Regions from separate parts of the Homo sapiens genome. Here region 1 is linked to region 2. The links come from fine-mapping of genetic effects on gene expression. Tissue or cell type: monocytes after LPS. Region 2 holds a variant in brackets; the other region holds the start of a gene. All regions are shown on one strand. Distances are between the middles of the regions. Region 1 holds the start of THUMPD3-AS1 (THUMPD3 antisense RNA 1). Region 2 overlaps SETD5 (SET domain containing 5).

What was found. PIP is the estimated chance that this variant, and not a neighbour inherited with it, causes the effect.
Region 1: it holds the start of THUMPD3-AS1, and the variant in region 2 is the best candidate, but not a certain one, in a credible set for the expression of THUMPD3-AS1 in monocytes after LPS (Quach 2016, PIP 0.75).

What each region holds. Positions count from the first base shown.
Region 1 is chr3:9,390,402-9,401,689 of GRCh38, forward strand. THUMPD3-AS1 (THUMPD3 antisense RNA 1) reads right to left here and starts at 6,222. Exons shown (of 4, transcript NR_132781.1): 1 at 6,159-6,222; 2 at 1-96. SETD5 (SET domain containing 5) reads left to right here and starts at 7,214. Exons shown (of 23, transcript NM_001080517.3): 1 at 7,214-7,576. RefSeq lists a silencer at 6,112-7,421 and an enhancer at 8,032-8,081.
Region 2 is chr3:9,416,352-9,427,639 of GRCh38, forward strand. It overlaps SETD5 (SET domain containing 5), which reads left to right. Exons shown (of 23, transcript NM_001080517.3): 2 at 8,116-8,175. Among named protein-coding and RNA genes, the nearest start is that of SETD5, 24 kb to the left of the region's middle. The variant A/ATT (reference allele first, on the strand shown) is at 4,481.

The sequences.
Region 1 (11,288 bases), 26 kb before region 2:
ATCTTGCTATCATGACAATAGTTTTGACCTCGCAGACCTCTCTGTGCTTACGCAACGGATAAAGCCATAAGAACTGTCCTGCCCTCAAGGAGCAACCTAAAGTAGGAAAAAAAAAACAAAATTACACAATTATTATTTACAATTGTGAGAAGAGCTCTTGACAACATTCAAATGGAGGATACAGTGTAGTAAGGGTGAGGGTATCAAGGCTTCCTTGAGAAGTGATGTTTTGAGGCCATTCTTTCTTCTCAATAACTGGTATTTGGTTCCTGAATCCTTTAACTTCCTTACCATTGTCACTCCTAAGCCAAATCTCATTACGTCATGTCTAGACTACTGTTAAGAGAACCACTTAAGTGGTCTCTGCAGCCCTCAATTTATTGGTGTTATCTATGGGAAAATTGCTCAAACTCTAAGCCTTAGTTTCCTACCCTATAAAATGGGGTTTTATATACAAGGAACATACTAAATACACAGGTATACCTCAGAAACACGGCAGGCTCAATTCCAGAGCACTACAATAAAGCGAATCTCATGAATTTGTTGGTTTCCCAGTGCATAAATTATGGTTACACTATACCATAGTCTATTAAGAAGTGTACAATAGCATTATGTATAATTGATAAATACATCACTGCTAAAAAAATGCTAACAATCTTTTTGCTGGTGGAGGGTCTTACGCCAACGTTAACGATGGCTACTGACTCATCAGGGTGGTGGTGGTTGAAGATTACGATAGCTGTGGCAATTTCTTAAAAGACAATGAAGTTTGCCACACTGACATCCTTTCACAAGACTTCTCTGTAGCATGTGATGCTGTTTGATAGCATGATAGCATTTTACCCACAGTAGAACTTTTTTTTCCTTTTCCTTTTTTTTTTTTTTTAAACGCAAGGTCTCACTCTGTCACCCAGGCTGGAGTGCAGGGGCGCCATCTCGGCTTACTGCAACCTCCTCCTCCCTGGTTCAAGAGATTCTCCTGCCTCAGCTTCCCAAGTAGCTGGGACTACAGGTGTGCACCACACCTGGCTAATTTGGTAGAGGTGGGGTTTCACCATGTTGGCAAGGCTGGTCTTGAACTCCTGACCTCAAATGATCTACCAGTCTCGGCCTCCTAAAGTACTGGGATTGCAGGTGTGAGCCACCACACCCAGCCAGTGGAACTTATTTCAAAATTGAAGTCAACTCTCTCACACCCTGGCACTGCTTTATCAACCAGGTTTCTGTAATTCCTAAATCCTTTATTGGCATTTTAACAATGTTCACAGCAACTTCACCAGTAGATTCCATCTCGAGAAACCACTTTCTTTGCTCATCCCTAAAAAGCAACTCCTCATCCATTCAAATTTGATCATGAGATTGCAGCAATTCAGTCACATCTTCAATGCTTTACTTCCAGTTCTAGTTCTCTTCCTGTTTCCACACCTGCAGTACACAAAAAGCATTCAATAACTATTACTTCATTTCTTCTACCTATGTTTCCATTAGCTTTTGCCTATAGTACGCACTAGAGTATGTTACCATTATTTGTTATAAGTAGTACCTCATTATTACACTATTCGTAAGCAATACCTCAAGGTCTAAGATTAGATTTTAAATCAAGGTCAGTAAAAATAGAAAAGGCTGTGAAGACTGTTGACTGACTTTACCAGAATCCATACACTAGAGGTGAGATTAGTTAGGTGATGAAATAACCATTCTATAAACATGATCTGAAACTCTGTTACTGTTGTCAGCAGGAAAAGCCAATGTTACATATGTTTAAAAAAGAAAAAAAAAACCCAAAACCAGAAAACAAAAGGTGACAAAGTATCAAGACAAAAGGTCACTGATGACTGATCTCTAGGAAAAGCTGGAAAGCAGGATTATTAAATGTAACCACGACTAAGATAAAAATCAGAGACAGAAAAGTCTTTGTCACCAAGAAGATATACTCCATGAGAGAGCAGAAACAATTCATCAGGTTTAACCCTGCTCTAGATAAAATAAAACTATCTGATTCAATACTCACACTTCTCTAATAATCCAATACATTATCCCATCTCAAGAAGAGAGAGTCACAGATAAGAAAAAAAAGGCTTCTTGAGAAGTATGTGCTCTAATATAAACTAATATGCCACTAAGAAAGCAACCTGCAAAGTCCAGTACCAGACTTCTGGATTTGTGACCTAACAAGGTGCTCTACAATTAACCTAACAGTCAAACCAGAGTGTTGTAAAAGAGAATTATGTAATTATGCCAAACCTCCACTCACAAAAAATATATGGAAGTAACCTAAGTTTACATTTTGCAAATCTCACACACACACTAGCCCTGACAAAAGTTTCACCAGCTTTCTCATCCAAGTACAAGCGTGTAATATACTTAATAAATTTGTCTTATAAGGGTAAGAAATAGTATGTAACTACTTGAAAAGGAGATAGGTAGCTGGTTAATTTAAACAAAAAGCCCAAGGAAGTAAGGTGCAGGAAAAGGATAACTGCAATGATTAGTACAGGAAACCCAAAGAAGAACTGAATGGTGGGATAGATGTACTCAGAGACCATGAGGCATCAGTTTCCTCTATGAATAGAATATTAGGAGATGTAGGTTAAATGGGACCCTGAAGTCTCTCCCAAAAAGCCTTGTTTATATGTTTTCTGAGCTTAACTATTACTTGAGAATCAATTTCACGTATAAACCAACAAAACTAACATTTATTGAGCTTCCAGCTCTGTGCTTAGGCACTGAAAAATCACTTTCCTTAAGGATTGCAATTAAGCAGGAGAAACACAAATAAGGTGAACTTCTCTTGTTCGAAAGAATATATTTCAACATTCCTTTTAAAAGGAAAACCTGACCTGCAAGTTTCCAAAAATATTAATTACTATTCCTCTTTGCCTCTCAAAATTCCCATTCTGTTATTTTTTAGGAGGAGGAAAAAACAGTTCATTTGAGGAAAAATTGAGGGTCACATACTATACAATTGAGAAGAGTTTCTCTGAAACTGTAATCATTTTTGGCAGGTAAATAGGCATATCCGAGTCAGCAAATGAACTTGAAGATACTGAGTTATACTGCCTGCCCTGTGGGGTTCCACCTTCCCCAAAAGAATTCAGAATTTTTGGGTGATCTGAGAATCTACATTAAGACAACTGTCTCCACACACAGGAGGCCTGAAGATCGCTGACATAAGGGTCTTTTTAAAAAGTATATTTAATGGCCTAGGGCGGTGGCTCACACCTGTAATCCCAGGACTTTGGGAAGCTTAGGGCAGGAAGATCACTTGAGCCCAGGAGTTCTAACCTGTGCAGCACAGCAAAAACCCATCTCTACAAAAAAAAAAACACAAAAAAATTAGCTGGGCATGGAAGCGTGTGCCTGTAGTTCCAGCTACTCAGGAGGCTGAGGCAGGAGGATCACTTGAGCCCAGGAAGTCAAGGCTGCGTGAGCCATGATCATGCCATTGCAATCCAGTATGTGACACTAAGACTCCGTCTCAAAAAAAAAAAAAAGATAATTAAAATGTGTAAGATACTGTATTAGCAATATAAAAAGCATTTGGTGTTAAAATGTTGGTATTATAATTCCTCAGGATAAAACTTACTTTGTGATTGTTTTCTATAACTCAAGATATGATGCTTAGAGCTCCTCCAATCAAGTGTTTCCAGGAAGTGAAAACTTGTAGGACAGAAATTTAGGCTGGGTTCATTTGTATCACACAGACCTATTCTTCATTCAAGTTCTGATATATTTAACTATGTAGCTCCTGTAACAGTTTAATGGAATCTCACCTCCCTAAAATTCATTATGCATTTTTTTTTGAAATCCAAACTCATTAACGCTTGCTTTCACTGTTGTCCAAGGCAGGCACATCTTTAAAAATGGTTTGTTGGACTTAGCTTTCAGCTAAATATATAATAAATAAAACAAAACAAGCAGTTAAATGAAATGTAATGGGCCAGAGAGCTTCAGCTTTTATTTCCTTACTGCTCAGTAAAAAGAGAAAACCATCAATGTCCACGTATTCTGTAATCCACAGAACAAGTCCGGGGCTACAGCTATACTGTCCACAGTTGCAATTCAAATTAGATAAAAAATAAAAATTCAGTTCTTTAGTCATACCAGCCACTTTTCCAATGCTCAAGATTAATAAAATGTCAAACCATAAAGACATTTACATGTCGCTCACTCCATTTACTTAAAGTTGGCTAGACATCAGAGTATACTAGGAGCTCAGGAGTACAAGACACTATTCCTTCAAAAAGCTCAGAATAGTTAAGGTAATTTAAATCAGCAATGACAACAACCCCAGAATTACTATGACCCACGCAGTACAAACTGCTCAGGAGTCAGAAGAAAACTGCTTTTTTAAAAGGGCAGTTTGGGTCATAGAACAACAGACCATGGAAGGCATGACCAAAGGGGAGATGACATTTGAATCTGCAGGATTAAAAGCAGCAAGGGTAGCATTCCAAAAAGAACCACCCCACAAAGATATATGACGTCTCTATGATTTGGGTAACTGCAATTCATTCCATGTGACTTCAGGAGAGAGGTCATATTTGTGTGTGTAGTATGTGGAAAATAGTGAAAAATGAAAAAGCTGTTAAATTGAGGAAAGTCTATCCAGGGACCTTATGCATCACATTCACGAGAACAGAATTCATCCTGTAAACCAGGGGTGTCCAATCTTTCGGCTTCCCTGGGCCACACTGCAAGAACTGTCTTGGGCCACATATAAAGGACAGCTGATGAGCAAAAAAAAAAAACAGACAACAACAACAAAAAAAACACCCCGCAAAAAAAACTCCTAAAACTTTAAGAAAGTTTACGAATTTGTGTTGGGTCGCATTCAAAGCTGTCCTGGGTCCCATGCGGCCCGCGGGTTAGACAACTTGCTGTAAACAGTACAAGCCAGTAATGGAGTTTCACCTGTCATTTTCATGCTCTATCTTCCTTTAGGACAATCATCCTAACAAGATGTAAGATGGATCAAAAGATAACACTAAAGACAGAGACAGCAATTTGGAAGCTATCACACAGGCATCTGAGATCAGTTACTAACTGGTAAGAACAGAAATGAGAGGTATTTAGAGGAAGAAAAAGGGAGATGTTGCCTAACCTCAGATCCAATTCTCTGTAAAGCAGTAGTCAAGATCACCTGGACTGTGAAGACGGTCAGGGACAGAATCCCAGCTAAGGAAAAAGGATAAAATGAAAATCAAGATAAACATTTAAGAACGTGAACTAGGGAGGAATAAAAGCACTGCTGGGTAAGAGTCAAGCCCCAGCTCAAGCCTTAATTTGTGGTGGAACCAATCTGTCTGGTTTCGCGAGACACCAGGCTACCCAAGATCAAGAGAGGGAGAAAGCTAGTGCTATGTCTGAATACTAGAGGAGCAAGTACAACAAATGGAAAATGGGATCAAGTATGAGTGAGAGTTGCTAAGATGCCTGGTAGGGATGCAAAGGGGTAGAGAGCCTGGGGAGAGAGGGTGAGGGAGGGAAGCACTGGTTTCTCAAGCAAAAGCTAAAATTTTTCTATTAAGATTTAACCTGATGCTACACTTTGGTGGTGCAGCAAGGGTCTCAAATGGTATAAAACTCAGGTGATCATGCTTTATGTCTGTCTCTAGAAAAATGCTCCAAAAATGATAAGTAGTGATAATCCGCAGTCTCGTTGCATAAAATCAGCCCCAGGTGAATGACTAAGCTCCATTTCCCTACCCCACCCTTATTACAATAACCTCGACACCAACTCTAGTCCGTGGGAAGATAAACTAATCGGAGTCGCCCCTCAAATCTTACAGCTGCTCACTCCCCTGCAGGGCAACGCCCAGGGACCAAGTTAGCCCCTTAAGCCTAGGCAAAAGAATCCCGCCCATAATCGAGAAGCGACTCGACATGGAGGCGATGACGAGATCACGCGAGGAGGAAAGGAGGGAGGGCTTCTTCCAGGCCCAGGGCGGTCCTTACAAGACGGGAGGCAGCAGAGAACTCCCATAAAGGTATTGCGGCACTCCCCTCCCCCTGCCCAGAAGGGTGCGGCCTTCTCTCCACCTCCTCCACCGCAGCTCCCTCAGGATTGCAGCTCGCGCCGGTTTTTGGAGAACAAGCGCCTCCCACCCACAAACCAGCCGGACCGACCCCCGCTCCTCCCCCACCCCCACGAGTGCCTGTAGCAGGTCGGGCTTGTCTCGCCCTTCAGGCGGTGGGAACCCGGGGCGGAGCCGCGGCCGCCGCCATCCAGAAGTCTCGGCCGGCAGCCCGCCCCCGCCTCCAGCGCGCGCTTCCTGCCACGTTGCGCAGGGGCGCGGGGCCAGACACTGCGGCGCTCGGCCTCGGGGAGGACCGTACCAACGCCCGCCTCCCCGCCACCCCCGCGCCCCGCGCAGTGGTTTCGCTCATGTGAGACTCGAGCCAGTAGCAAGGGCCCGGTCCCACAGCTTCGACAGCCAATCAGGTGTCGAAGACAAGCAGGCGGCGGGTAAACCGACTCCCCCGAAGGAAGGGGAGGGTGGGAGGACGCCCGCGCCAGAGCCGATTTCACTGACCCTCCCCTCCCGCCGCAGGAGGCCGGCCGCGCCCGCACACCCAGCATCTCTACACCCCACCTACCTACCCGCCCCACCCAGGGGGCAACGCGAGAGTCGCTAAGCGGCTGCGTACTCCCGACGGCGTAACTGACAGGAGCTTTACTCCAACCAGAATACGCCATTTGTGTTTTCACACACGGCGGGAGGAGAAACGGCCAATCGGCGACAAGAGGCTAGCCGGAAGCGCTCCTCCCTCTGCGAGAGCAATGGCTCCGTCCGGTTTCGAGCATTTTCCGCTCCCTTCTCCCTCCCCCTCCGGTTGCCGCAGGGCGGGCCTCCCTCCCGCCTGCATCCAGCCACCCCTTTCCCTCCCAACGTAACAAACATTATGTTCCCGACTTCCCACGGGAAAGGCAACCCCCGCAAGCCACCAGACGGCCCCCCTAGCCACCCATCCCCCCAGTGTACCGCACCTCCCCTCCCACCAGAGTTCCGCTCCCCTACCTAGCCGAGGCTCTCTGAGGAGCCGGAGCGCCGAAGCACAGCCTCTTCTCTAGGCGGCCCCGGCGGCTTCCGCTGATTGGCGGCGAGTGGGCCAATGGGTGCGGGGCGGTGGGCGGAGAGGCCAATGGCGCGGCGGGAGGGGGCGTGTCCCGGGTGCCCCTGGCGCCGGCGCTGGGAATCCCCGTGCGGTCAGTGGCGTTTCCGCTCGGGCAGCGGGCTGAGTGAGCTGCCGCCGCCGCCGCCGCCGCCGCCGCCGCCGCCGCTGCCGGGGGAGGGGCGGCCGCCGCCCGCCTGCGCTCAGAGACTCACGCAGCCCCAGTCCCGCCAGTCCGCCAACACAGTAGTGCCGGCCCCCCTCTTTCCCTGGCCCTGCCCCCCCTCCCCGCCTTTGGCTCGCTCCGCCTTTCTGCCCCCCACCCCCACCTCACGGGTACGGGCCATTCCCGGCCAGGAAACGCCGTGGCGCCGCGTTGGGCCTAACTCGAGTCCTGCCGCCTCCCGGGAGTGCCGTGCGCCGCAGCCCGGGCCCAGGCCCCGGCAGCGCCTGGGACAAGGTAAGGGTCCGACAGAAAAGAGACCGAACCTCACGATCGGGCCCCAGGGGAGGGAAGGGTCACCTCCTCCGTCTCCCCGCGCTCGCTCTCCTTGGGTCGTGGGCCTGGCCCTCCCCAAGCTCTTAGGAGGATGCTGCCACTTCTCACCCCCCTCGCCGCCTTGCACACACCGTTGCAACACCCCATTTTCCCAGGGAGAGAGATCCCCCTCTAATCTAGGCGACCCAACTCCCCCTTTCATGTTTTTCCTGGGTCAGGACGCTTCCCCTCCCCCAACGCCTCTTCACCCCCTTTCCTGGGAACTGCCTACTCCACGTTTACCTTTCCCTTGAGGAGAGGCCTCTTGCTGCCCTCCGCTCGAAATACACAGGCATACTTTTTTTCTCTCCCCGATCCCCCACTCCCTACCCCCGTTCTCGCGGCCTTGTGACAGACAACTCTGATCGCTCTGGGGGCCGCGATCTCCCCTCCGTAATCTTCCTGGACGCCTTCCCTCTCGTTTTCTGGCTTCCCACCTCAGATGGCTGCTTCCCAAAGGCATTACCTTCGCCACCCCCACCACACGTTCTCTGGCTCCCCGTGGCGTGTGCCACAGCGTGTCTGAGATAGCCTCGTTGAATGTGTAGGGTTCGAGCCTGGAGTTGAGCCAGATTGTGTCGTTTTACTTGCCTTGGGCGTGGAGAACGATCTTGTGAGAATATCTTCAAAGGCAGAAAAATATTCCCTTTATGAATTCTCTTTCCCTCTGCGTGTAAGTCGGGAATGTGAAGAGGAGTGTAGGAAAGAGCCCTGGTTCAAGTAGGTAAATCGCATGAGAGGGAAAGTTAAACTGTTGGGAAAGCCCCTTCTATGCTAATTGATTCTATAGAGTCCTTGCTTGTCTCACTTCTTGGGCGTCAGTGGTCTTTCTCTTGGATATGGATGCTGCAGTCAGCTCTGCTGGTCTGGGTCAGGGGTGCGTGTATGACCTGCATTTTCTGCTTTCTCATGTTACTTGTGCAATGTATTCACCGGTAACTCATTTCTTTCCCAGACCTCTGGGTTCCACTGGGCTTTGTCTATATTTAAGTTCATTTCTCCAGTTTCCTTCCTGCACATAGGTACTGAACGAATCCCCAAGTTCTGTGCTAATTACCTTCATCAGTTGACTAAACAAGTTTTTAGATGACATATTTGTGACCAAGGTCATATTTACATTTCTTTGTTGGACAGATGTTACATAGCTATACTTGTGATTGGGGAGGATCCAGCTGAGTGGAGTGTGCTGAGCTTTTTAGGAGAGTGTGTACTCCCTATTTGAAATTATTTTTTGGTTGTTAATTTTATATTATTAATGTTTTTAGGTCACAGAAAGTTCTAAGTGGTAATTTTAGATGTGTGGGATCTGAGCTAGGACTAAAGCAGAGAATACCCACGTAATCAGAGGTTTCTGGGCTCCATAGAGGACGTAGGGCTTTTTTTTTTCTATTGGATTTCTTCCAGTTTTCTCAGGATCATTAGTTCTCTTCTGTAGCCAAAAATTCTGGCCTGTTATGGGATTAGAGTCTTTAAGGTTTACTCAGACTGTCATTATGTGTAGAAAAATGAATTATGCCCTTTGGTAGGACATGACACAAGGCTCTGTTTCTAGCTGCAAATTTAAATTAGATTGTAGAGTGCTTGGGAAATTGGCTTTCAAAAGACCAAAGCTTAATCTTCACTCCTAAACTGCTGGCTTAATTAAAATGGATATTTAGAATTTGGTAAATGTTGATTTTTCTAATAAAAGGCCTTGGTTTAAAAGGGTGACCTTAGGATTGTTTCTTTCTTAAAAGCATAATTCCAGCCCTTCTGGCATGGAGCACTGGTCCAAAAAAAAAAAAAAAAAGTGTGTGTAAGGAGTGGGGGTGGGGTAAAGAGAAGGTTGTTCCTTTGGGTTGGATCACAGGGGTGAGTATACAAGGCAGCAGCAGCTGCTGGCTCTGGAGCTCTGGTTGCTACGTGAGAAGCTTGAGTAGTGCTGGCTGCTGTCTCCAGGGAAGGACAGCAGTGCAGCGTCCATTAATGCTGCTGGCTGCAGGGAGCAGCACTTAGGCGATGGCTGCTTCAGGACTAAGAAGAAACCTTGCTTTTCTGGGAATTTTCACTGCTGAGCTGGTTTGCTTTTTATTGGTGGGGAGATGGGAATTAGTAATTCATAATCTCCTACCCATTTATGGATATTGGCATCTGGAAACTGGATCATGGTTAAAGCCTTTCTTTTTTTGTTTGTTTGATTTGATTTTTGTTTTTTGGCAGATTTTTGTTTTTTATCTAGACATTTGTGCTTGGATAGGACTAAAAGTTCCATTAGAGTTTTAATTTTTCAATCAGTTTAAAAACCCAAGTAATAATTTTAAGAATCTTTCTGATAACCACAATAGGAAGAAAATAACAGGAATTTTTTCCTGCAGCTCACATATCATGCCTTCCTCCATCTCTTTAATCATAGAATCAATTCTTATTATTTTGTTATGTGTCTCCATCCTTTCGATTAGACCACATTTACCTTATAGACGATTTGCTAAACATTTTACTAAGCTTGAACTCTTAAACTCTAAAAAGGTGCCATTTTGGAGTGGTTTCTAAATAAATATTTTTAATTTGTATATTAGTAATAAACTTCTCCAGATTAGATATTTTCTTTGGAGTTTGACTTATAAGATTGATTCATTATATACATGTTGGATATAGCCTTCTGACATCACAAATATATGTCTTTGGCCATAATCCATCTGAAATGTAGGACAGACCAGAAGAAATATGCAGAAATCGAATAAGTCTAGTTCAGGATACTGAGAAGATGGCCTCTGAGCCCCTTAGGTGATCTCCCCTCCCCCACAACTCCTGAACATTAGGATGATCTCTGATTAAGCAAAACAGTCTGAGCGTGGAAAAACTTGAAGGAGAACCACCACCACCAATTATATGCAATACTGGACATATTCCTGTGTGCTGTTTTTCTTCCCCAAGACTCGTGTATCCTATACTTTTTTCTCTCAGAATTTTGATTTGTTCATTTTCGTGTAAATGTACTTAAATCTCACAAACATCTATAATTTGTAGTATCACTCTGGCATTTGTGGCAGAGAACCAAAAAGAATGGAAATGAGTTTTGTCATTCACAAATGTGGCTCACATTGTTTTCCCAGTAATAAAAGCAGACCAATGAAACAGAACCTTTAATGGATACTATTTTAGGAGGTTCCAATTCTTATTACTATCACATAGATAAGATGCAATAGCAGATAAATATGATTTCATGTATACTGGCTGTTTGACATACTTAGGGTTTAAGATAAAAATGTTTGTAGTTTTTTACTCTGTGGCTTAAGTTGCTATATAAAATAATTGCTTTTACACTCGAATTTCCTGTTGTTTGGAACCTTTTGTGCTCTTGATATTATCATTTTTTAGAGGATCATACAGGCCCTTTTCATAGAAGGATTTACTTAAGTTATACCCTTGAAAACTTTTTTATATCTTTTGATACTGTTTTGTGTCCAGGAACTGACTTTCTGAAATTATTCTGGCTTTTCTGGGGAGAATGACTATTTCATTTTTACCTTTGAATGGGGAAATAATAAAGTGCAAAGTACAGATTTGCAGATAATTACTTTTGCTTTATCCTCTCCATGTTGAAATAACTTATGAAAAATTAGGCCATAGTTAACAGCAGTCAATGACTATTGGA
Region 2 (11,288 bases):
GGGTGTTTCTCCTGTGTCATTCATTTTTGTATATTGGCATATAGCAAATATAGGAATGCTGTGTCGCAGCTGTGGGTCATGTATGTACTTGCAGTTAGCTCTTGCTCCCAAGAATGCAAGAAATTTATCAACAAACTCGTGTCATAAAAATAGTTTACAGTGATTTTTTTCTTAAAATATTTCAATGATTAAGACTTTTTTTAATAACCACAAGTGTATAATTGTAAAACCTAAGCATTACTCAGCAAATCTAGCAATTGTTGAATTGCATAAGCTTCTTGTTCATTGGAACTTTTGCTAAAGAATTATGACCTTTGATTTCTTATCACCATGACCTATCATTATGATAAACATGCCCCTCTTATGTATCCTTATACCCATTATAAGGATAAACAAGGGATAGCTCCACCCACCAGATGTCATAGACACAACTGGTATTTTGGGGATTTTGCTGTAGACTAATCCTGGAAGGAAGAGAGGTTATAGATAAAATAAGATTGGCCATGAATTGATTGTTGATTAAAGCTGGGTAGGGAACATTGGGTTTTCTCTGGTTTTATATTTATTTGAAGTTTTTCACCATAAAGTTTTTTTTTTTTAAGATAAAAAATAAAAGCATGAATAGTGTAAACAAAGTTTTGAAGGAGAAGGAAACAGGTTAGTAGCTAATTAACAAAAATGTTCTTGTTCCATTCAGGCACAGGAGTTTGGACTAGCCCAATAAGCATTAAGGAAACCATTATTTGTAGATTTCAGATAATGCAATGATAGTAACCAAAGTTATGCTCTAGAAGGGATAACATCATGGAAGAATATAGAGTAGATTGGAGGGTTCACACCCCAGAGGTAGTGAGACCAGTTCACTGCTATTATATAATGCTACCTTGAAATCATAGGGAGGCGACTGATGTGGTTTGCTAAAAGTCTCCAAAAATTTCAAAGGAGAATAGCTCTTCAGTCAGGTGCTAGTGCCAGCACAACAAAAAAGAGGGTTTTTTCCCTCATTTGGCCAGGGCATGGATTTGGACCATGTGGGTGTCATAATGGAGTATACCAAGTGATTTTGTTCCTATGATGAAAGTGAAGTCCATATTTTGTCTCCTGTCTTTTAGTAAATCAGTATAGATAAGTCTTTTTTTTTTTTTTCCCCCCGAGACGGAGTCTCGCTCTATCGCCCAGGCTGGAGTGCAGTGGCGTGATCTCCACTCACTGCGAGCTCCGCCTCCCGGGTTCACGCCATTCTCCTGCCTCAGCCTCCCAAGTAGCTGAGACTACAGGCGCCCACCACCATGCCCAGCTAATTTTTCGTATTTTTAGTAGAGACGGGGTTTCACCATGTTAGCCAGGATGGTCTCGATCTCCTGACCTCGTGATCCGCCCGCCTCGGCCTCCCAAAGTGCTGGGATTATAGGCGGGATCCACTGCGCCTGGCCAAGTCTTTTTTTTTTTTTAATTATTTTATTCTTTATTTTTTTCCCCACATATTCTAAAATAAGTCTCTTACAGTGTCTAGGTTTCTTTCCAAAGGTGATTAAAAATGAAGCATCATATTTTAAACTTCTGAGGCAGAACTGCTAGAACAAGAGTTTTGTTTTTTTTTTTTTTTTGAGACGGAGTCTTGCTCTGTCGCACAGGCTGGAGTGCAGTGGCGCGATCTCGGCTCACTGCAGGCTCCGCCTCCCGGGTTCACGCCATTCTCCTGCCTCAGCCTCCCGAATAGCTGGGACTACAGGCGCCTGCCACCGCTCCCGGCTAATTTTTTTTTTTTTTGTATTTTTAGTAGAGACGGAGTTTCACCGTGTTAGCCACGATGGTCTCGATCTCCTGACCTTGTGATCCTCCCGCCTCGGCTTCCCAAAGTGCTAGAACAGAGTTTTGATAATTTGTTTGAAACGAAGCACTCAAATCTTCTAGTTTATTTGCATTTGCAGTCAGACCTCTACAGATGCCAGCTAGATTACAGATGGCTAGCATAAGTTTTTTTCATTACAGAAAGAAGAAATTTAGAGCTTAGTGCGGTCTATTAAAAGAATTAAAGGTTATGTCAAAGGACAACTATAAGAAAGTACTTTGGTTCTGAATATTGCTTCAGCTAGGGTTTATTTTGAAGCTCCTAGCCCAAATTTGTAGAAATGCAACTAAGATCTAATATTTAGTGTGTAAGAACTTTACAGGACATCCAGTCAGTAGTAGTCTTAAAAGTGAATCACATAGGCTGAAGCAGGCAGATCACCTGAGCCCAGGAGTTCAAGACCACCCTGGCCAACATGGTGAAACCCCGTCTCTACTAAAAATACAATAATCAGCTGGGTGTGGTGGTGGGCACCTATAATCCCAGCTACTCAGGAGGCTGAGACAAGAGAATTGCTTGAACCCGGGAGGTGGAGGTTGCAGTGAGCTGAGATCCTGCCATTGCACTCCAGCCTGAGCAACAAGAGCGAAACTCCGTCTCAAAAAAAAAAAAATGTGAATCACATACATAAACATTGGGAATTTGCAGATAACTTTCATTTTAGGGTTTCTAGAGCGCAGTGGTGTAATCTTGGCTCACTGCAACCTCCACCTCCTGGATTCAAGCGATTCTCCTGCCTCAGCCTCCCAAGTAGCTGGGATTACAGGTGTCCACCACTATGCCTGGCTGATTTTTGTATTTTTAGTAGAGACGGGGTTTCATCATCTTGGCCAGGCTGGTCTCAAACTCCTGACCTCAGGTGATCCACCCGCCTTGGCCTCCCAAAGTGCTGGGATTGCAGGCATGAGCCACCACACCCGGCCCACTTACAGGATTTTTCTCCCCCTTCATGGTTGTATAAATGCAGTACTTGGCACATAGGCAAACCTGAACAGTTTGCAAGTTGCCTACCCTTTTCTACTTTGGATAAAATAAACCTCTTAAAATAGCACTTAACATAGTAATATATGTATATTAATAGTAGTTACTTCATGTTTGTTGAATGAATGAATGAAAAAAGTAGCAAATCTACATAATATAAATCCCAAGACAGCCAGGAATTTTATCTGGACCTAATTGTCTTACATAGCACCAATTGGTACTTAATAAAAACAAGGCTGGGCATGGCAGTATGCGTCTGTGGTCCCAGCTACTTGGGAGGCTAAGGTGAGAGGATCGCTTGAGCCCAGGAGGTTGAGGTTGCGGTGAGCTGTGATTGCACCAAAGCACTCCAACCTGAGTGACAGACCCTGTCTCAAAAATAAAAATAAAAACAATTAGTTATAACTCAGATGTTGCTATCTAAGGTAAGTAGTAATTACTATAATAAACAAGCTATATATTAACATCTTAATTTTCTTTCCTCTGAACTTTACTACTGTAGGTGTGTAGTGAACTTCATACAAGTTAATCTTTTTGTAGCTCTATTTCTTCATTTCTGTTTGTTCATCGGTTGGAGAAATTTTGCTTAAATTAATGAAAGTAAAAATACAGATATTAATGGCTCATAAATGTGCACAACCCACTTCATCTATAGTAAGTAAAAGTGGCTCCCATTTTGGGGTTTGAAAATGAAGAAGATCTGAATTCACAGAGAGGAGGCACGTGTAGAGATATGAGAAGTTCTTTTCCTACTCTACTTTGGTACATTGGTCTCTAACACATGTTCTGAGCCTCAGAACACAGTAGAACAGAACCTTCAGAAAGTGTTGAGAGTATAACTCTTTAAAGAGGTTTAGTCAGTCTAAATTATTTGAGGGCATCATCTTTATTTGGTACTTAGAAGTCTAAAATCTTCCTGATTGTTGTTAAGGTTACAAAGAGTCTGTGTATTGTTGGTTAGTTGAGCAGTAAATACCTTTTTATCATTGTTAAATGGGTTGTAAATAAAATATTTTTCTTCAGTGTTAAAATAATTTATGATCACAATATTTAGATAATAATAATAATAATTCTGTTATTTATGATATGTAGTCTTATCCTACTGCCACTCCCCTCTTCTGCTCCACATACTACTAAGTATGACTTGGTCTCTATAATACGCACTAATTATGAAGTTTTTTACGGAGAAGGAAATTCTTAATATAGACTAGGATTTTTTTTCAGTTGTCTTTTAATGGCCTTTTATTCTAGTAAACTTAGATTTCTTATAGACATCGGTTTATTGTGCCGAGCTCAGTAGCTCCTAGAGGGAGTATAAATTTAGGCAAAGGAATCAAGGAATAAACTGGTATTGTAGAAGAGATGGGAGAAAAGGAAATTTTTATTTTTGCTTTAAATTACTAAATCATGATGTTTCCTGTCTCTCAGTGCTTACCCCAATCAGTGTTTCTCTCTTTTCTTTTTTCCTTTCAGTCCCGAACCCCTAAAATTCTTTGCTTGCATTAACTTGCTTCAGATTATAAGCCTAATTTTACTGTTCCAAATACATGAACTTTTCACTGTATCTCCAAGTGCTCTTTTAGAGTTCATCTCTTTGTTTTCCAGTAACTCATATTTGTTTCTTCTTATGCTTAACACTTCTCTCTC[A/ATT]TTTTTTTTTTTCATGTTTCTCACATTTTTTCTTTCCACATTATCTGCTGTAGCAAACTTGAAATATATGCTTTTGGAGAAGAGTAAAAACAGTGTTTAGCCATATTCAGGTTATTAGCAGCAGCTCCTCTTTCTTCACATATACTTAAAGGGACCAGAAAGTTATTTAAGCTCTTACTTGCTACAAATGCTGTTCCATGTGCTCCTATGAGTCAGCACAACAGGTATTTTTTTTTTTTTTATTGTACAGATGAGAAAACTGAGACTTTGAGACATTCTATGAATTGCCTGAGCTAGTTGGCAGCAGTGCCAGGATTCATAGAAATTTGGAGCAGGAAGACAACACAATGAAGATTTTACTTTGAGGAATTTAGGGTTCATCTATGTAAAGTGATTTTTCTGAGGTCACTAATTATGTTGTAGGCTAGAACTCAAGTCTCCTAACTCCTAATATAGTGCCTTTTTTTTCTTTTCTTTTTTTATTTTTTTAGGAGATGGGTCTCACTATGTTGCCCAGGCTGGTCTTAAACTCCTGGGCTCAAGCAATCCTCCTGCCTCAGCCTCCCAAAGTGCTAGGATTACAGGTGCAAGCCACCGCACCTGGCCTCTAAGAGTGCTTTTTCCTAGCATACTTTTCTTCTCCTAAGGTAAAAGGCTGTTTGTCATGGTACAGCTACGGTGATTTTACTTGAGATATTTGACTTTGAGATGGAGATGAAGATAAGTATATAATGCAGCTGCCACATTCATTCTCATACAAGGTAAAGTCATTCAAAAGATAAATCGAAGAACTATAGATGTATTTAAGAAGAAATTCAGCCTATATGTAACAACAAAATTTTGAATAATCAAGTTCAGAAATTGGATTTTTAAAAACTTATTAGCTACTTTAACCCTTTTGAAATATTCCCAAAAAGTGTTTTCTCTTCCTGAGTTAAATTTATTCATTTATTGACCTATTAAAGATTTTTTTAGTGCTTCAGAGCTATTCTGTATATCTGTTCATTTTCGTTATTTAGTAGTATATAGAAGTAATAGATTGGGCTGAATAGATTTATTTCAGGATATATCTTAGATATTTGTGTTTTTTCATGAATCCCAGTTTAAGGGTTATTGCTTTCAAAAGGAAGAAATTTGGTTAGTCATGACTTTTGGCTAGTTGAAGTTTAGAGAAGTGCTTTATACAGGATCTTTTATTTAGTGAGAAAAAAATAACTTTTTATAATTTTATAATACTGTGTGAAAAACCTGATACCAAAACTTCTGAAAAAGAAACCAGGCCTAGGAGATGAGGATTCTAGGGAAGATTATTAAATTGAGGATATTTTTAAGTTAGATTCTAAATTAGTAAATCGTGGCTAATAAGATGAAAATAATCTGATCCTTTAGTAAGATCTGAAGTAATATTGTTGCCCTGCAAAAAAGTGGTTGTTATCAGCATACCTTATATGTCAGCCTAAGCAAGATTAGATTTTCTCTTTTCTCTGATAGATGCCAATATTTAACATTGACTTTTATCTACTTTCAAAAATATCTATGAAATATACTTTCTGTCTCTGAATTAGAGTGTATGTATATTTGTGTTTACTTGAAATGTTATAGCTGGATGATAGATTTCAGAGCAGTTTTTATGCTTAGGGAAGCCACTGCCTCCCAAAAAGGTTTTCTTATGAGAATGAGGAAAATAAGTATAAATTTTCATATTTATGTTATTACTATTGATGTGCTTGGATAATTGTATTTATAAAAGTAAAAAATGTTCAGTATTTTATCTGAAATTTAATAATGGATATTGTACAGCCTAAGGAATTAAAAGAAAAAGGACCCTTTGAGAAAATGGCTTGTTCTTATGTATCTTAATATATACTGTGTTCACTTTATGTTTTGTCAGACACTGAAATTGAGGAAGAGAGATTTTGGCGTTCTGTTGGTTTATGGAGAGAGTTGATCAGAGATTGCTCCTTGGCTGAGTTGCTGTCTGCATAGGCTGTTAACAATTGTTTCTCTGGCAGCAGATCTTGTTCATCAGGATTGCATCATTTCTGGGAGAATGGCCAAGGTCCACAGCCTCAATACAAAGACTGTCTGAAGCATATGAGGCCTGTTCTCTTTCTGAAGCGGCACTCCTCTTCCTGCCAGTCCTCTTCACAGGATTACTGAAGCAGACTTGTTCTGAATTTCTTTCGTTGGATTGGTTGTTTATTGGACTTTTGTCTGCCAGCTGCTTCCGCCTCACCTGTCTGATGCAATTTCTTCTTCTGAAATCTGTTGGAATTGTTCATAAAACACTTTTTGTTTGTCTTCTCTGTGAGTGACCAGGGAGATCATACAGGTCTTGTGCTTTCAGCAAGTCATATAGAGAAGAGACTGTCAGAATGATGATACAGAGACTGTTGGCCATTTCTGAAACCAATTAAAAAGATGGGGTAATTAAGAAACATTTCTGGCATGTTCTATTTAACATCCTTTTCCCTAGAAACTGTATGTAAATGGCACCTCCTAAAGAGAGTACTCGGTACTACTGGAAGATACAGGCTGTGTCTGTTTCTGAATCCAAGAACTTACTAGTGTTCCTGTGGATTCTGATGGATTGTTCTGGAAATAGTTAAATTAATAATAAATTGAAACTGTGATGCATTCATTTACCCCCTACTGTACACTCACATCTATTTCGCTGTTTTCCTCCTTTCCTTTTTTTCTTTCTTATTTGCTATTGCTTCTTCCTTGATTTACTTTATTTCTTCCTTCCTTTTACTGTTACTTTGATACTTTTATTTCTCTAATTCTGGGTGTACTATTTTAAATCGTTTCTAAAAAATAGTTTATTTTCCAGTTTTTTAAAATTAGAAATCATAAAACATCAACATAAATGAAATGCATGCGTTCTAATGCTTGGTAACTGGAATCCTATGAATAGCTCTTTTCATGTTTATGATATGTTAATCTTTAAGGTGTTAATAACTCTGGCTAGCGTTAAATTTGACTTTTAGGAAAAAACACCAGAGACTTAAAGGATACTGATCATTTTCCCTTCCTTTTTGGAAGGTAGAAAATTAATTTAAGCGCCATTTTTTAAGCATGTTTCCATTTGACCGCAAATAGAACTGACTCCTTTTTATCACTCTTTTTTATAGTAGGACAAGAAACTAGATGGTGTGGAATGAAGGGAAAGAAAGGAGTAATAAATATGGACTTGTAATTTAATGGGTGATGATGGCCCCTTGTCTGGCTGGACAGTTGTCGGACATCGGGTTAAAGAAAGAACTCTGAATTTGAGAAGTGTTCAGTGAAGAAGGGAAGCACCTTTTAGGAGAGAGAAAAAGAAGGGATCCCTTGGAAAATGAGATAATTCTAATTTGAAGGAAGAGGAAAAATTAGCCAGTGACATAAGTATTTACCATTTAAGTCAAATAATTTCCTTCTCTACCATCTCGTTTCTGGCTTTATGGAAAAATAAAAAATTAAAGGGCAAAAAATTCAGTGCCGGATGGACGTAGGGTGGTAAACGAGATAGTATAGATGTAGGATGATAAACAAGACAGTATACAGAAACATAATATAGCTGTAGAATTCCATTCTGTGTGTTCATCAATGTTATTTCTTTCTGTACTAATTTTTGTCTCAACTTTTTCTAGGTCTTCAGAACTACTAGCAGATAATTTGGGGGGACTTCATATTCAGAAGTCTATATAAAGGTGACTGACCCAAGTAAATCCTTTTAATTTCTGTTTTATTTTTTGCATTTTAATGACTGCTGGAATCATGTTGTAGTAAATTGTGATTATAATTTACTTAGCAGATATTTCTGGAACTTCTCTACGTGTCAGTTATTGTTTTGGCCATTGAAACTACAGCAGTGGATAAAAATCCCTGTTCTCATAGAGTTTATATTCTGGTAGGAAAAAACAAACAAATTATAATAAGAAAATACTGCATTTAGATGATCTGTTAAATGTTCCTCGGTTAACATTTTAATAGCTACATTTTACAGAGTTACTTAGGGAAGGAACTATTCTTAGGGTAATATTTGAGAAATTTGGGATTATTAACAGAATTTGAATTAAGAAGCCTCATCATTATTAAAGCATTAGTTAGAATGAGATGGTCAAGCTAACCTATTATGGTTGCTTTCATCAGAAGAATGAAACAGTCATGTTAAACTAGACACAAGGAAAATGGAATAATTTTTATGAAATAGAAATTTATAGTTACCGACAATGTTTCTTTTTTTTTTTTTTTTTTTTTTTGAGACAGAGTATCATTCTTGTTGTCCATGTTGAAGTGCAATGGTACAGTCTTGACTCACTGCAACCTCCGGCTCCCGGGTTCAAGCGATTCTCTTGCCTCAGCCTCCCAAGTAGCTGGGATTACAGGCGTCCGCCATCGTGCCCGGCTAATTTTTTTGTATTTTTAGTAGAGACAGGGTTTCACCGTGTTAGCCAGGCTGGTCTTAAACTCCTGACCTCAGGTGATCCGCCCACCTCAGCCTCCCAAAGTGTTGGAATTACAAGCGTGAGCCACTGCACCGGGCTGACTTAATGTTTCTTAAGGATTCATCAACTATCCAAAATAGCTGGGTTGGTGTTTCATTAGTGAATGTAGCAATCATTTATTCACTCATTAAGATGTTATCTGAAGTAACTTTTCCATCTTTTCCTTTTAGTATATCTTTTAAAAATTGCTCTAGGAAAAATATCAACTATCATCTTGGGTTTATAACTTGTCTTTTATCTAGAAACTGTACTTTTTTTTTTTTTTTTTTTGGAGAAAGAGTTTCACTTTTGCTCAGGCTGGAGTGCAGTGGCCCTGTCTCAGCTCACTGCAGTCTCTGCTTCCCAGATTCAAACGATTCTCGTGCCTCAGCCTCCCAAGTAGCTGGGATCACAGGCATATGCCAACATGCCCAGCTAATTTTTGTATTTTTAGTAGAGATAGGGTTTCACCGTGAAACCATGCATTTTTTAAATGGGTGTACAGTCGTAATGGCTACAACAAAGGGTTTTTAATGATATTAAGTACGGTTTTTGGTTTAAGTCTTTTACTGAAAATATAAAACAATTCAGATTCCCTTTGCTGATCAGGGGAGGTACGGTGATAATCAGACTTTCATATGATTATCTGGTCAGACAGCTTTGGGGCTTTTCTTTTAATCTGAATTATACAGTAAGACTAATAGAAAGAGTAGTGACCAACAGCCCCCAGTATTTAACTGTCTTTTGGGTTTACTTGATGAGTGTTCTTGTTTTATCATTTACAGATTTTACTTCAATTTCCCAAAGGCTTAGAAGATGTACTGCCAAGGTCTCTGTTTGGATATACTGTTAGGGAAAGGAAACATACATGTGTAAGACTGGCCTAAAGGCAAAAAAGTTCATCAGTCCCTTTTTTTTTTTTTTTTTTTTTTTTTTTTTTTTTTTTTTTGGCAACAGGGACTCACTTTGTTGCCCAGGCTGAGTGCAGTGGCATGATCTCAGCTCACTGCAACCTCCACCTCCCAGGCTCAAGCAATCCTCCCACCTCAGCCTCTTGAGTTAGCTGGGACTACAGGTGCATGCCACCACACCAGATTTATTTTTTTTTTTTGAGATGGAGTCTCACTCTGTCGCCCAAGCTGGAGTGCAGTGGCGTGATCTCGGCTCACTGCAACCTCCACCTCCTGGGTTCAAGAGATTCTCCTGCCTCAGCCTCCTGAGTAGCTGGGATTACCAGCGTGTGCCACTACAGCTAATTTTTGTGTTTTTAGTAGAGAAGGGGTTTCACCACATTGGCCAGGCTGGTCTCGAATTCCTGACCTCAAGTGATCCACCCACCTTGGCCTCCCAAAATGCTGGGATTACAGGTGTGAGCCACCGCGCCTGGCGCACACCAGGTAAATTTTGTATTTTTAGTAGAGACAGGATCTCGCCATGTTTCCCAGGCTGGTCTCGAACTCCCAAGCTCAAGCAATCCACCTGCCTCAGCCTCCCAAAGTGCTGGGATGACAGGAATGAGCCACTTCATCTGGCCCAGTCATTTCCCAGCCCAGCTATATGTCACCTCCAATTGGGTGTAGGAACAGGCGTATTGTCATACCCAGAGGTCTCACTTCATCATCTAGGCTGGAGTGCAGTGCATGATTATGGCTCACCTCAGCCTCTACCTCCTGTGCTCAGGTGATCCTCCCACCTCAGCTCCCAAGTAGCTGGGACCACAGGCACACATCACCATGGCTGGCTGATATTTTTTTACTATTTTTGTAGAGTTGGGGTCTCACTATGTTGTCTCAGCTGGTCTCAAATTCCTGGACTCAAGTGATCCTTCCACCTTGGCCTCCTAAAGTGTTGGTATTACAGTTGTGAACCACTGCACCCAGCCCACAATTTTTTTTATTTGCATTAATATCAAAGTAAGATTGGAGCATCTCAGACCATCTACCATTTACAATTTACATTAACCGGCCAGGCACGGTGGCTCACGCCTATAGTCCTAGCACTTTGAGAGGCTGAGGTGTGAGTGGATCACCGGAGGTCAGGAGTTCAAGACCGCCTGGCCAACATAGTGAAACTTCATCTCTACTAAAAGTACAAAAATTAGCCAGACATGGTGGCAGGCGCCTGTAATCCTAACTACTTGGGAAGCTGAGGCAGGAGAATCTCTTGAAGCCAGGAGGCGGAGGTTGTAGTGAGCCAAGATTGCGCCATTACACTTCAGTCTGGGCAACAAAAGTGAAACTGTCTCAAAAAATAAAAATAAAATTTACATTAACCCCCTGGGTTGACTCAGTCGGTATCATGTACTTTTCATTCCTTTAGTTTTTTTAGTATTAATA